Regions from separate parts of the Homo sapiens genome. Here region 2 is linked to region 1. The links come from fine-mapping of genetic effects on gene expression. Tissue or cell type: whole blood. Region 1 holds a variant in brackets; the other region holds the start of a gene. All regions are shown on one strand. Distances are between the middles of the regions.

Evidence for each region. PIP is the estimated chance that this variant, and not a neighbour inherited with it, causes the effect.
Region 2: TRG-AS1 starts here. The variant in region 1 is fine-mapped to the expression of TRG-AS1 in whole blood (TOPMed, PIP above 0.99).

Annotation. Positions count from the first base shown.
Region 1 is chr7:38,365,084-38,373,271 of GRCh38, reverse strand. The region is part of intron 3 of TRG-AS1 (T cell receptor gamma locus antisense RNA 1); the gene reads right to left. It also overlaps TRG and the pseudogene TRGV1. Among named protein-coding and RNA genes, the nearest start is that of TRG-AS1, 28 kb to the right of the region's middle. RefSeq lists enhancers at 3,068-3,117, 5,102-5,191. The variant T/C (reference allele first, on the strand shown) is at 4,394.
Region 2 is chr7:38,338,000-38,346,187 of GRCh38, reverse strand. TRG-AS1 (T cell receptor gamma locus antisense RNA 1) reads right to left here and starts at 4,767. Exons shown (of 4, transcript NR_040085.2): 1 at 4,389-4,767; 2 at 61-167. It also overlaps TRG, the pseudogene TRGV6 and the pseudogene TRGV5P.

The sequences.
Region 1 (8,188 bases):
CAGCACTGGCAGGAGATGCTGCTGTCTTCTGGGAACATGCAGCGGCCAGTGAGCAGCACAGGACACAGGAACGTAAACTGGGGACCCTTCATCCATCCACTCTGGCTTCGTATCTTCTCCATTGTCCACTCCTATTTTAGCCCGGGATGATCAGTGATGATGTGCATGAGTTACTCATTCCCATCTATGCCCCAGCCCAGACTGAGCATATACAAACCCTGTTCTTTGCAGAATTTTTCATTTTTCCTTTTAATTTTCTATGGAAAGAATATATGTTATATAATTCAGCCTTATTGACACCCTTATAATAGCCTTCTAAACTACACACCTGATCATTTATCCCATCCAAATATACATATATTTGATACAGGGTCTCACTCTGTTGCCCAGGCTGGAGTGCGGTGGCACGATCACAGCTCACTACAGACTTGACCTCCCAGACTCAAGGGATCCTCCCACCTCAGCCTCCCAAGTAGTTGGGACTACAGGCGTGTGCCATCACGTGCAGCTAAATTTTTGTATTTTTTGTGGAGACTGGGTTTCACCATGTTGCTCAGGCTGGTCTGGAACTCCTGGGCTTAACTGATCTGCCTGCCTCGGCCTCCCACAGTGCCGGGATTACAGGCATGAGCCACCGTGCCCAGCCTCATTGATACACATTAAATGCCTACTACGTTCCAGGCCTTGTGCTGTGTGCTCTTGATACTGAGGTGTGTGCCCCCTTAAGCTCATTGAAAACACTATTGACCTGCGTCACTGCGGTCACAAAGTGATACAGAGAGCCCAGACAACCATTTAGAGGTGAGGAAATTCTAATAATTCATGGTAAGCAGATTGTTTCCCATAGTGTTGCTAGGGAACATCTCACAGCAGACTGAAATAGAAATACAAGCAATTGTCTGCGCACTAGAACTTTCTCCCCAAGGCAGTGCTATTTTTTTAAACAATTCTTCTATCATCATCATCATAATGCTGACCTCTTGATATGTAAAGGTACAATTACGAGGAGAAGCAGAAGAACATTTACATCTGTGAGTTTGCACCTCTCTCCCACCATAGTGAGCAGATCACACCCTCAGGACCCCAGAAGACTGGCAAGGAGGACTTGATAGAGACAAAAGGAGAGACACAAGAGGGGACAGAGTGTTCATATGAAGAGGGAGAGGGCATGATATAGAGACAGTGACGGCAACAGAAAGTAGAAAGTTGAAGAGGGACAGAGAGCAGAGTGGAAGTGAGAAGGAAAGAAAATGACTAGGACAGTGGCCATACAAGCAAAAAGAGCAAGAGACAGAGACACGTGGAGAGGTATAGTTCTCTATCATGGCGGGGGAGAGAGAGAGAAAACAGAGAAAGAAATACAAAACACAGAGAGAGGGTGAGAGACAAAGGGACAGAGAGACAGCGAGAGAGGGAGGGAAGATGGAGAGAGAGAAAACAACAGAGAAGAGAGAGAAACTGTGATATAAATATAGCGACAGGGACAGGGACAGTGATGGAGAGAGACAGAGAAATAGGGAAAGATACAAGAAGAGAGAACTGGAGTTAGGGGGAGAGATAGGGAGAGAGAGAGAACGATAGACCTGTGGAGACAGAAGCATACACGTGGACACACAGAGTGCGGCAGTGTTAGGAAGATAGAGATAAATATACAGAAATAATGGTAAATATTGAGATAGAAAAATATATATAAAGAGAAAAAACAAAGAAATATGCATATTTATATATTGTAAAAATATACATAAATGTATTTATACATGTATAATATGTTATATATAAAATATTATATATATTTCTATACAAAAAATTAGCCGGGTGTGGTGGCGGGCACCTGTAATCCCTGCTACTCGGGAGGCTGAGGTAGGAGAATGGCATGAACCAGGGAGGTGGAGCTTGCAGTGAGCCAAGATCGCGTCACTGCACTCCAGCCTGGGCGACAGAGCGAGATTCCGTCTCAAAAAAAAAAAATTATATGTATTTCTAGCTTTCCTTTTCTCTTCATATATTCTATCTGTCTGTCTGTCTATCCATACTATTGCCACAATAACGCCATGTAGCAAATATCCCAAACTCAGTGGCTTAGCACAATAATCATCTACAAATTCTTACAAATGCGTAGGTTTGCTAGACTGTTCTGCTGATCTAAACCAAGCTCATCTGATCTTGGCTGGGCTTGGCCACATGTCAGGCAGCTGCTGGGTTAGCTGGGAGGGGGACTGCCTGGTCAAAGTGCCTGGGTCTGAATAAATCAGCTCCACTACACACAGGGTTTCATCCTCCAACAGGCTAGCCTGGATTTGTTCTAATGACAATGACAGAAAGCAAAGAGCTAGCAGAAGCACATCAGGCCACTTGAAGCCTCAATTCAGAACTGGAGCCCTATGAGTTCTTCTTGTATTTAAAAAAAAAAAAAGGCGGGGGGCATAAACGGCGCCTCTTAATCGAAGGAGCTTTGACTTATCAAGAATGAGTTCCACTTCTGGAAAATTTGCAGTGAGCCCACACTGCCTTGTCTGGCTCACAAATGCAACTATGAACCCTGAATCTGAGGACTTTGAAAAATAAATGATAGCAAGTCAACTGGAGAAGGAAATCGGAAAGTGAAGCACTATGAATTCCCAGTAAGTTTCTTATTTATTTTTCCTCAATTATCCCCTGGCCTGTACTCAGATAATCAGAGTATATGTACAAAGATAATCTGAAATGCAGAACTGTACACCAGGTGAGGACAGAGAGAAAGGGGGACTCTCTGTGGTCAGAGAGCCCTGGTTTTCTGTTTTTTGTCCTTTTCCATTCTCTCGCAGCCCCCAGGCAATCTGAGTGGCAGTGGCAGCAGCTATGGTGAGCCAGGAGCCTAAAGCTCTTAGGAAAGGGATCCTTCTCTCTGACCAGGGAAGCTGTGGCCCTGAGAGAGAATCCTGGTGGTTTTTGTTCTCTATCCTCTCACCACTTGGCCCTGGAGGGAGACACAATGGTGGGAAATGCAGTGTGCTAAAGCCACACCTGTCTGGCCAGACGACTGGAGGGGCATTTCCTGTGAACTAGAAAGTATTGCAGAGCTTGCAGAGAGAAAGAAGATTAAGCAAGAAACATCATGCAATGATGTCTGGACTCCTGGGCTCACCCACTAGCTGTGCATGCATAAACGTGACCCTAAACAGCTCCAAAGCCAAAGGCCTTGCAAACCGAAGCAGGAGTAGGCACTGCCCAGGTCCTAGAATGGCCACTGGGTGGCGCACACACAGGACAGGTCTGACAAGACAAGTACTGCAAAGGCTGGAAAACGGAACTGACTGGAACTGCCCACCAAACACCAGTAGGAAGTTGTAATCCCTAACTGCGTCAGTTGCCTGCTAACAAAAAAACCCCCTCCACATTCTGTGTAATATTTAAACAATGCCCAGAGCTCTATAACATGATATTCAAAGTGTACAGGATTTAATCCGAAATTACTCCGCATGTGGAGGACGAGGAAAATCTTAGCATCTCCAAACGGAAAAGCCAAACAACAGATGCTAATCCTGACACGACACAGGTGTTGGAATAACAAAGACTTTAAAGGAGCTATAGTGACCACAGGAAGAAATGGAAAGAGAGGAGGAGAGAAGGAGGTAGAAAGTAAATAGATAGGAGAGATACAAATAGAGAAATAGAAAAAGAGATGAATAGAGATAGGCAGATAGAGAGACAGAAACATAAAGATATGAACAGAGTAAGAAACAGGAGCACTAAAGCAAAATAGAGGAGACTGAGAGCTGTAAGAGGGAGCTATAGAAGGAAAAATGTAAAGGGAGGAACAAAAACGGGACAGAGAAAAAAGAAATATGGACATAAAGACGGAGATGGAAGGACATAGTGATAGAAAGCAATGCAGGAGATAGAGAAATAGAATAGTAGAGAGAGAAATAGAGCCAGGGCACGTGAAAGCTATAAAGCAATTCATGGTAGTTGTCTAAATTCAACATATCATTACGGTTGCATAATGCTAATATTCTCATTTTAACATTTCTCCTAAATTTATTGGTTGTAATACTTCCACAAAAGAACTTTCATTCGGCCAGGCACAGTGGCTCACACCTGTAATCCCAGCACATTGGGAGGCCGAGGTGGGTGGATCACTTGAGGTCAGGAGTTCAAGACCAGCCTGGCCCACATGGTGAAACCCCATCTCTATGAAAAATATAAAAATTAGCTAGGTGTGGTGGCGCGTGCCTGTAATCCCAGCTACTTGGGAGGCTGAGGCAGGAGAATTGCTTGAACCCCGGAGGTGGAGATTGCAGTGAGCTGAGATTGTGCCACTGCACTCCAGTCTGAGACACAGAGCGAGACTCTATCTATCTAAAGAAAAAAAAAAAGAACTTTCATTCTTAAGCTCTGTGGTATTCTAAAATGT[T/C]TGTACAGAAATGGCAAGGTAAATGCTTGATTATTTTCTTTTCTGTTTTCAGAATGAGATGGTGTCTTAGCAACCTCCAGAGGAGACTTTATTTTGCTATATTATGTTTTTCAAGAATTTGTGTAGGTGTTATTCTTTTGGTGCTTAAAATGTCCTACCGATGGTTAGTGAGAGCCACTGCCGTTGTTTTTATTTGAGTAGAGTCCAAGGCAAACCAACATGCCTGACCCTCAGTCCTGTTAATAAAGCAGGCTCAAGCCTTCTCAGAATGGCCCTGGGTGGACTTGCAAATGTGGACTTGCAAATGTGAAAAGGAAGGTGGTTCAGGGCCCTAATCAGAAGCTTCCTGGCAGGACCAGGTTCTGGCAGCTGCGTTGGCTGCTGAAACTCTGAAGTGCAGGATGTGAGCCTGCTGTGGGACTGCCCTCTCCCAAGGGCCATGACCAGCTAGCGCCAGGGTCAGCTTCCCCCACATCTGCACTCCCTCTGCTGTGGGCCTGAGCAATCCATGCCCCTGGCTCTCTCCTGAAGAGGGCCTGCTCTCAGCTGCCACAAGAGGGCGATGGAGAACGGGCCTGAGCAGAGAGGCAGGAGCTCCTCTGCAGGTCCTCCCAGGAACCACCGCTTCTGGGAGGAAGGCTTGGGAGTCCCCTAAGACACATCCTCAGTCACTTCTCCCTGCCTGTGACTCAGGAAGACCAGCTCCTCTTACTGTCTTCTGTGCTAGGGATCACTTCCTTGTTGAGTGGGGCCTGAGTTTTAAGAGGATCTTCTGCTCCTCTTCATCTGGTCCCTTTCCTTCCAAGGCCCCAGAGAGGAAGGCATGCGGTGGGCCCTAGCGGTGCTTCTAGCTTTCCTGTCTCCTGGTGAGTGCGCTGCCTACAGAGAGGATCACGGGTTTTGTTTTGTTTTGTTATTTTCTTCTTTTGCAAGGAGCGACATACTAAGAAATGCCTCATTATATTTTGTGTTGTTCCCATTGCAGCCAGTCAGATATCTTCCAACTTGGAAGGGAGAACGAAGTCAGTCACCAGGCTGACTGGGTCATCTGCTGAAATCACCTGTGATCTTCCTGGAGCAAGTACCTTATACATCCACTGGTACCTGCACCAGGAGGGGAAGGCCCCACAGTGTCTTCTGTACTATGAACCCTACTACTCCAGGGTTGTGCTGGAATCAGGAATCACTCCAGGAAAGTATGACACTGGAAGCACAAGGAGCAATTGGAATTTGAGACTGCAAAATCTAATTAAAAATGATTCTGGGTTCTATTACTGTGCCACCTGGGACAGGCACAGTGATTCAGACACTGAAAATCTGCCTGTGGTTGCTTCTGGTACACAAGATAGACCAGCCAACTCTCATTTCCTGCCCTGAATTTACTGTATTCTGTACAAAGAGAAACACAGCTTAACTCCTGATCTCCCCTGCAATATCACACTCCCCTGGCAGCAGCTGCACCCTGTTCCCCACCCTCCCCCAGGACTTTCCTGAAGACCAAGCTGCCACCTCCAAGCCTCAGCTAAGCAGCCTGGCTGAGAGCAAGTTTCTCTCAGCTCTCCTAGAACATGGGGAAGGCCCACTCACTCTGCTTCCTAGGACAGACAGGTACAGCTAGGGTCCAGCTGTGAAGCAAGACATTTTGGACAAAAATGGGAAGGGTATTCATACTGAATCATACATCCAATAATGGTCCAGAGATCGCAGCTGAGAGTGGTGCTTATTCCTTATGTCTATAACAATATAAGCAATACTATAATGACCACTAAAACACTAGGCCAATATATGCAGTTGAACATTCTCTCTCTCTGCCCTCCCTTTTATTCTCGCTCTCCTTTCTTACTTCCATGCTTGCTTTTATCATTTTCTCTCCCTCCCTCCCTTCCTCCTTTCCTTCCATCACCCCACCCTCCTTCCTTTCTTTCCTTCCTTCCTTCCTTGCTTTTCTCTCTTTCTCTCCTTTTTGTGTACATAATCACAATACTTTTTCCACAAAATCATTTGAAATAGTTTTTCTCTATTTGTTCATGCCAACATTGATATAGCTGCTTTAATTGTTCAGTTTCATTTTTATATTTTGGAAATTTGTGTATTATTTTGTTTTGTTTCATATTTGTTTTGTATACGTAAAACATTTAGTTGGAACTGAAGTCAAAATTATAAAAGATGACACATTTGAAGATTTTAGCTTCCATTGTAGACTTCTCATTCCTCTTTTCTCCCTGACACTATAGGTAACAATATTTTTATCCGTTTTCTTGAACTTTTTCACTCTGTCATAGCGCAGTATGTATCAATTCTATTTCAATGCCATATTTATATTTTTGTTCCTATATTTGGTTTTTATACATTTTAATCAATCTTATATTTTCCCGTGTCTGGATTGTGTGTCTTACTTCTAAAGGTGCACATACTTCATAAGTATGCATAAAGACGTCCATATCATTTATTTGAATGTTTTTATGTGTTGATTATTTAATGATGGCATCATTGATCTATCAGGAATTTTTATACAATAATTACTGTATTAGTAATAATAATACTGGCCAGGCCCGGTGGCTCATGCCTGTAATCCCAGCATTTGAGTAGTACAGTCGTTAGGAATACTTAGGCCGGGAGATTGCGACCAGCTTAGCCAACATGGTGAAACCCTGTCTCTACTAAAAATACAAAAAATTAGCTGGCTGTGGCGGTGCACACATGTAATCCCAGCTACTTGGATGCTGAAGCAGGAGAATCTCTTGAGCCTAGAAGGTGGAGTTTTCAGTGAGCTAATATCACACTACTGCAGTCCAGTTTGGGCAACACAGTGAGACTCTGTCTCAAAAAGACTAATAATAATAATAATATTGATGGTAAATATGGGTACTGACATTCTGGTAGTTAATGTACTAAGCACATTGCATGCATATTGTATTTAATCTACACAGAAACTTCATTAAGGATTTAAAGTACTGTTGAATGTAACATTAGAAATTGGGGGGTTAATTAACATTCCCTAAGTCATATACTTTAATTTGATAATGATTGCAATCCAAGCTCTGTGGTTCAGAAAATGAGATTTGTTAATTCGGTTTGCATTCCCCCATCGTAGGAGTACTAGCATCATTTTACAACTTTACAGTTCATTTATATTTCTTCTTTTGAGAATTGCCTTGTACACTCTTTTCCTATTCTTCTATTGGAGGATTAGTTTTTTCTTATTGGTTCGTAAGAATTAATATACACCATTTTAGAGATACTGACCCTTTATCCAATGTGTTGAAGATATTTCTCCTCATTTGTTATTATTTACATTTGGCACCTTTTGGAGAATTGAACTTTGAAAAAAACAAAATCTATCAATTTTTCTATGGTGTCTACTTTGATGTCAGGTTTAGAAAGGCCAATCTCACCTAGAATTTCTATGCAATTCATCATCATTTAAGTCTAATGATTTTCTTTTTATTACAACTAAATCACTATTTGTAACTGGTAAGGTAGAAATGCAGCAATATTTGTTTCCATATGGTAAGTCAATATCCAAAAGAGAACTTATGAAATAATTGACTATTTCCTTGTGGATATTAACATATCACTTTATCACATGATAAAATATTACATACATGCAGCTTTCTTTCTGGATTTTCCACTGTGTTCCATGAATCTTGTCATTCTAGTGCCAGTATTGCCTTCTCTTCAGCACTGTAGCTTTATAGTTCTTTTCACATTCTGATGAAGTTTCTCTCATTATCTTTTTGTTTTAAGAATTTTCTGTGCATGCTAGTGTGATCTCAATCCTCTCCCTTCCCATTT
Region 2 (8,188 bases), 27 kb after region 1:
AGGTCACACACACAGGATTACAGGCACAACTCACCCCCCCCAACACACACACACATTTACCTTAGAGCAGAGTCCAAGACACACCAACACACATGATCCTCAGTCCTTTTAATTTAAAGCACGTTCAACCCTTCTCAGAGTGGCCTTGAGTGGTTGCCTCCATGTGTCTGCAGATGCGAAAAGGAACTTGGTTCAGGGCCCTAATCAGAGGCTTCCTGTCAGGACAAGGTCCTGGCATCAGCATTAGCTGCTGCAACTCTGAAGGGCAGGGTAGGAGCCTGTTGTGGGACTGCCCCCTCCAAGGTCTGAGCCTGTTAATTCCAGGGTCAGCTTCCCCTAAATCTGCAGTCCCTCTGCTGGAGGCCTGAACTCTCAATGCCCCTGCCTCCCTTCTGCCCTGGGCCTGCTCTCAGCTGCCACAAGAGGGCGCCGAAGAAAGGGCCTGAGGAGACACAGGAGCTCCTCTGCAGGTCCTCCCAGGAACCACCCCTTCTGGGAGGAAGGCTTGGGAGTCCCCTAAGACACATCCTCAGTCACTTCTCTCTGCCTGTGTCTCAGGAATACCAGCTCCTCCTACTGTCTTCTGTGCTAGGGATCACTTCCTTGTTGAGTGGGACCTGAGTTTTGAGAGGATCTTCTACTCCTTTTCATCTGGTCCCTTTCCTTCCAAGGCCCCAGAAAGGAAGGCATGCGGTGAGCCCTAGCGGTGCTTCTAGCTTTCCTGTATCCTGGTGAGTGTGCTGCCTACAGAGAGGCTCACAGGTTGGGTTTTGTTTTGTTTTCTTCTTTTGAAAGGGGTGCCATACAAAGGAATACCTCATTATATTTTATGTTTTTCCCATTGCAGCCAGTCAGAAATCTTCCAACTTGGAAGGGAGAATGAAGTCAGTCACCAGGCCGACTGGGTCATCTGCTGAAATCACTTGTGACCTTACTGTAATAAATGCCGTCTACATCCACTGGTACCTACAGCAGGAGGGGAAGACCCCACAGCATCTTCTGCACTATGATGTCTCCAACTCAAGGGATGTGTTGGAATCAGGTCTCAGTCTTGGAAAGTATTATACTCATACACCGAGGAGGTGGAGCTGGAATTTGAGACTGCAAAATCTAATTGAAAATGATTCTGGGGTCTATTACTGTGCCACCTGGGGCAGGCACAGTGATTCAGATCTGCCCTACACCACACTGAACATCTGCCTTGTGGCTGCCTCTGGTACACAAGATAGAGCCGCCCCCTCTCATTTCCTGCCACCAAATTTACTGTATTCTGAACAAGAGAAAGACAGCTTAACTCCTGATCTCCCTCCTAATATCACACTGTCCTGGCAGCAGCTGCACCCTGTTCCCTACCCCTCCCCCACAACTTTCCTGAAGATCAAGCTGCCATCTCCGGGCCTCAGTTAAGCAGCCTGGCTGAGAGTAAGGTTCTCTCAGCTCTCCTAGGACATGGGGGAGGCCCACTCACTCTGCTTCCTATGACAGACAGGTACAACTAGGGTCCAGCTGCGAATCTAGATATTTTGGACAGCAAATAGGAAGGTTATTTATACTGAATCATTTATCCAGTCATGGTCCAGAGATCACAGCTGAGAGTGGTGCTTATTCCTTATGTCTATAACAATATAAGCAATAGTATAATGACCACTAAAACACTAGGCCTAGGTATGCAGTTGAACATTCTCTCCCTCTGCCCTCCCTTTTATTCTCTCTCTCTTTTTTCTTACTTCTTTGCTTGTTTTTATTTTTCTCTCCCTCCCTAACTCCCTCCCTCCATCCATCCTTTCCTCCCTTCCTCCCTTGTTTCCTTCCATCCATTCTCCTTCCTTGTTTTCCTCCTTCCTTCCTTGTTTTTCTCTCTCTTTCTTTCCTTTTTGGGTACATAATGAGAATACTTTTTCCACAAAATCATTTGAAATAATTTTTCTCTATTTGTTCATGCCAACATTTATACAGCTAGTTTAACTGTTCAGTTTTCATTTTTACATTTTGGAAATTTGTTGTATTACTTTGTTTTGTTTCAAATCTGTTTTGTATATATAAAATATTTACATGGAACTGAAGTCAAAATCATAAAAGGTGATGCATTTGAAGATTTTAGCTTCCATTGTAGATTTCTTGTTCCTCTTTTCTCCCTGACACTACAGGTAACAATATTTTTGTCAGTTCACTTGAGCTGTTTCACTCTGTTTGTCATAGCAGAGTATGTATTGTTTCTATTTCAATGCCATATTTATATTTTCATTCTGATATTTGGTTTTTATACATTTTAATAAATCTTATATTTTCCTGTGTCTGGATTGTGTGTCTTACTTCTAAAGGTGCACATACTTCATAAGTATGCATAAAGACGTCCATATCATTTATTTGAATGTTTTTATGTGTTGATTATTTAATGATGGCATCATTGATCCATCAGGAATTTTTATACAATAATTACTGTATTAATAACAATAATACTGGCCACGCCCGGTGGCTCATGCATGTAATCCCAGCATTTGGCCAGTCCAGTCATTAGGATCACTTAGGCCGGGAGATTTGGACCCGCTCAGCCAACATGGTGAAACCCTGTCTCTACTAAATATACAAAAAATTAGCCGGCTGTTGTGGCGCACACATGTAATCCCAGCTACTTTGGATGCTGAGGCAGGAGAATTTCTAGAGCCAGGAAGGTGAAGGTTTCAGTGAGCTAATATCACACTACTACAGTCCAGTTTGGGCAATAGAGTGAGACTCTGTCTCAAAAAAATGAATAATGATAATAATAATATTGATGGTACATATGGGTGCTGACATTCTGGTAGTTAATGTACTAAGCACATTGCATGCACATTTTATTTAATCTACACAGAAACTTCATTAAGGGTTTAAAGTACCGTTGAATGTAACATAAGAAATTGGGGGGTTAATTAACATTCCCTAAGTCATATACTTTAATTTAATAATGATGGCAATCCAAGCTCTGTGGTTCTGAAAATGAGATTTGTTAATTTGATTTGCATTCCCCCATCTTTAGGAGTACTAGCAATATTTGACAACGTTATAGGTCATTTATAGTTCTTCTTTTGAGAATCGCCTTGTGATACTCTTTGCCTATTCTCCTTTTGGAGGATTAATTTTTTCTTATTGGTTCGTAAGAATTAATATATACTATTTTAGAGATACTGACCCTTTATCCAATGTGTTGAAGATATTACTCCTCATGTGTTATTATTTACATTTGGCACCTATGGTGAATTGAACTTTGAAAAATAAAATAATATCTGTCCATTTTTCTAGGGTGTCTAGTTTGATGCCAGGCTTAGAAAGGCCAATCTCACCTAGAACTTCTATGCAATTCATCATCGTTTAAGTCTAATGATTTTCATTTTATTACAACTAAATCACTATTTGTAACTAGTAAGGTAGAAATGCAACAATATTTGTTTCCATACAGTAAGTCAATACCAAAAAGAGAACTTATTAAATAATTGACTATTTCCTTGTGAATATTAATATATCACTTTATCACATGATAAAATATTACATACATGCAGCTCTCTTACTGCATTTTCCACTGTGTTCCATGAATCTTCTCATTCTAGTGCCAGTATTGCCCTCTCTTCAGCACTGTAGCTTTATAGTTCTTTTCACATTCTGATGAAGTTTCTCTCATTTTTTTGTTTTAAGAATTTTCTGTGCATTCTAGTGTGATCTCAATCCTCTCCCTTCCCAGTTTTAAACCGTGAGACTTCTGTCCAGCAAGACTTTTTCACGCTCCAAGGCAGGCAAGCTTCCCTCCTTCACAGGGACCCGAGAACTCAGCTTTCAGAGCTGTTCCTGCGGAAGCCTCATGTCCTCCACGTGTGCTCCAGAGGCAGAGGGAGACCAACTGGAGCCCCTTCCCTTTCTCATTCCCAGCTGTGATGACAGCAGAAACTGCAAAATTTGAGCTAGGACAACACAACAACCAAGAGAGACATTGTTCTACATCTCATTATGCATATTTCAAACATGTGTCTCTATATACTTCTTACAGAGGTGGTGGTAATCTGTGCATGCCCTACTGAATTTTCACAATTATATTACTGTACTTGTTTTGTCCCCTTATTTCCATCTGTGAATCCAGGTGCACTGCAGATATTAGTCTGCTTTCTGAGGGTAGGGATGACAAATAAAATATACAATACCCAGGGAATTTGGAAGTTCAGATATATAACAAGTTTTTAGTTCAAGTATGTTCCAAATATTTCATGACATGGCACCCAGTACTACTTTAAAAACAAACAAGCAAACAAACAAACTTACACTCCTACTTTAATGAACAAAAATTGTCTAATAAAGAGATCACACCCACAGGATTACAGGCACCCCCCCCCCCGCCCCCCGCCACACACACACACATTTACCTTAGAGCAGAGTCCAAGGCCCACCAACACACATGATCCTCAGTCCTTTTAATAAAGAACATTCAACCCTCCTCAGAGTGGCCTTGGGCAGTTGCCTCCAAGTGTCCTTGCAGATGTGAAAAGGAAGTTGGTTCACAGCCCTAATCAGAGGCTTCCTGGCAGGACAAGGTCCTGGCATCAGCATTAGCTGCTGCAACTCTGAAGGGCAGGGTGTGAGCCTGCTGTGGGACTGCCCCCTCCTAGGGCTGGGCCTGCTGACTCCAGGGGTCAGCTTTCCCCATATCTGCACTCCCTCTGCTGGAGGCCTGAACTCTCCATGCCCCTGGCTCTCTTCTGCAGAGGGCCTGCTCTCAGCTGCCACAGAGGGTGCTGCAGAACTGGCCTGAGCAGAGAGGCAGGAGCTCCTCTGCAGGTCCTCCCAGGCACCACCCTTCTGGAAGGAAGGCGTGGGAGTCCCCTAAGACACATCCTCAGTCACTTCTCCCTGCTTGTGACTCAGGAAGACCAGCCTTCCCCACTGCCTTCTGTGCTAGGGATCACTTCCTTGTTGAGTGGGACCTGAGTTTTGAGAGGATCTTCTGCTCCTGTTCATCTGGGCCCTTTCTTTCAAGACCCCAGAGACGAAGGCATGTGGTGGGCCCTAGCCCTGCTTCTAGCTTTCCTGTCTCTTGGTAAGTGTGCTGCCTACAGAGAGGCTCACAGGTTGGGTTTTGTTTTGGATTTTTCTTCTTTAGCAAGGGACGCCATACTAAGGAATACCTCATTATATTTTATGTTGTTCCCATTGCAGCCAGTCAGATATCTACTAACTTGGAAGCGAAAATAAAGTCAGGCACCAGGCAGATGGGGTCATCTGCTGTAATCACCTGTGATCTTCCTGTAGAAAATGCCTTCTACATCCACTGGTACCTACGCCAGGAGGGGAAGGCCCCACAGCATCTTCTGTACTATGACATCTGCAACTCCAGGGATATGTTGGAATCAGGAGTCAGTCAGGAAAGCATGATACTTATGGAAGTAGAAGGATAAGCTGGAAATTTATACCTCCAAAACTAAATGAAAATGCCTCTGGGGTCTATTACTGTGCCACCTAGGACAGGCAGAGTGATTCAGACCTGCTCTACACCACACTGAATATCTGTCTTGTGGCTGCTTCTGGTACACAAGAGAGAGCCGTCCCCTCTCATTTCCTGCCCTGAATTTACTGTATTCTGTACAAAGAGAAACAGCTTAACTCCTGATCTCCCCCCTAATATTACACTCTCCTGTCAGCAGCTGTACCCTGTTCCCCACCCTCCCCCAGGACTTTCCTGAAGACTAAGCTGCCATCTCAGCTAAGCCTCAGCTAAGCAGCCTGGCTGAGAGCAAGGTTTTCTCAGCTCTCCTAGGACATGGGGGAGGCCCACTCACTCTGTTTCTTAGGGTCCAGCTGTGAAGCGAGATATTTTGGACAGCAAATGGGAAGGGTATTTATACTGAATCATGTATCCAATCATGGTCCAGAGATCGCAGCTGAGAGTGCTGCTTACTCCTTATGTCTATAACAATATAGGCAATATTATAAATACCACTAAAACACTAGGCCTAGATATGCAGTTAAACACTCTCTCCCTCTGCCCTCCCTTTTATTCTCTCTCCTTTCTTACTTCCTTGCTTGCTTTTATTATTTTTTCTTCCCTCCCTCCCTCCCTCCCTCTCTCCCTCCCTTCCTTCCTTCCTTTTTTCATTTCTTCCTTCCTTGCTTTTCTCTCTCTTTCTTTCCTTTTTGGGTACATAATCCGAATATTTTTTCAACAAAATCATTTGAAATAATTTTTCTTTACATGTTCATGCCAACATTGATATAGCTAGTTTATTTGTTCAGTTTTCATTTTAAAATTTTAGACATTTGTTGTATTATTTTGTTTTGTTTCATATTTGTTTTGCATATGTAAACTATTTACATGGAACTAAAGTCATAATTTTAACGAAGATGCATTTGGAGATTTTAACTTACATTCTAGATTTCTTTTTCTCTCTCTTTTTTTTTTTTTTTTTTTTTTGAGACGGATTCTCAGTCTGTCACTCAGGCTGGAGTGCAGTGGAGCAATCTCGGCTCACTGCAACCTCCGCCTCCTGGGTTCAAGAGATTCTCCTACCTCAGCCTCCCAAGTAGCTGGGATTTCAGGTGCCCGCCAGCACATCCAGCTAATTTTTGTATTTTTGGTAGAGACAGGGTTTCCTCATGTTGGCCTGGCTGGTCTCGAACTCCTGACCTCAGATGATCCCCCTGCCTCGGCCTCCCTAAGTGCTGGGATTACAGGCATGAGCAACCTCACCAGGCCCCATTCTGGATTTCTCTTTCCTCTTCTCTCCCTGACCCTATAGGTAACAATATTTTTATCAGTTCAGTTGAACTTTTTCACTTTTTCTTATTCAGAACAAGTCTTTCAGTATTACAGAAAAGTCTTTTGTTTGTCATAGTGCAGTATATATTGTTTCTATTTGACCGTCATATTTATATTTTCATTCTGATAAGGTTTTATACATTTTAATCAATCTTTTATCTTCCAGTGTCTAGATTTTGTGTCTTGCCTCTAAAAGTGCATACACTTCATAAGTATGAATAAAGAAGTCCATATCATTTATTTGAATGCTTTTATTCATAGACTATTTAATGATGGCATCTCTGATCTATTGGGAATTTTAATACAATAATTACCGTAGTAATAATAATATGCTAATGATAAACACGGGTACTGACATTCTGGTAGTTACTGTACTAATCACATTGCATGTAAGTTTTATTTAATCTTCACAGAAACCCCATTGAGGGGTTAAAGTACCATTGAATACACCAGATGAGAAATAAAGGGCTTAACTAACATTCCCTAAGTCATATACTTTATTCGATAGCAATTTCAATCCAAGCGCTGGGGTTCAGAAAATGAGATTTGTTAATTCAATTTGCATTTTCTTACCTGTGTGAATGCTAGCATTACTTAACAACTTTGTAGGCCATTTATACTTCTTCTTTTGTCAACTGCCATTTCATACTCTTCGCCTATTCTTCTGTTGGTTATCATTTTTTTCTTATTGGTTTGTAAGAATTAATACACCTCATTTTAGAGATATTGATCCTTTATCAAATGTATTGAAAATATTTCTCGTGGTTTGCTATTATTTTCAGCACCTTTTGGTGAACTGAACTTTGTGTACTACTTTTAATAAAACCTATCAATTTTTCTAAGGGGTCTATTTTGATGTTAGGATCAGAGAGGCAAATCTCACTTACAATATGTGTGCAATTCATCATGGTTAAAGTCTAATGATTTTCTGTTTTCAGTTTTATTACAAGAAAATCTCCATTTGTAGCTGGCAACATAGTAACTTAAGAAGATTTGTTTCTGGCCGGGTGCAGTGGCTCACGCCTGTAATCCCAGCACTTTGGGAGGCTGAGGTGGGTGAATCACGAGATCAGGAGATCCAGACTATCCGGGGTAACACGGTGAAACCCCATCTCTACTAAAAATATAAAAAATTAGCTGGGCATGTTGGCAGGTGCCTGTAGTCCCAGCTACTGAGAAGGCTGAGGCAGGAGAATGGCGTGAACCCAGGAGGCGGAGCTTGCAGTGAGCCGAGATTGTGCCACCGCACTCCAGCCTGGGGGACAGAGAGAGACTCTGTCTCAAAAAAAAAAAAAAAAAAAAATTGTTTCCATATGGTAAGTCAATTCCCAAAAGAGAACTTATTACATAATCCAGTAGTTTCTCAAGGATATTAACGTACAACTTTATCATGTGATAAAATATTACATACAC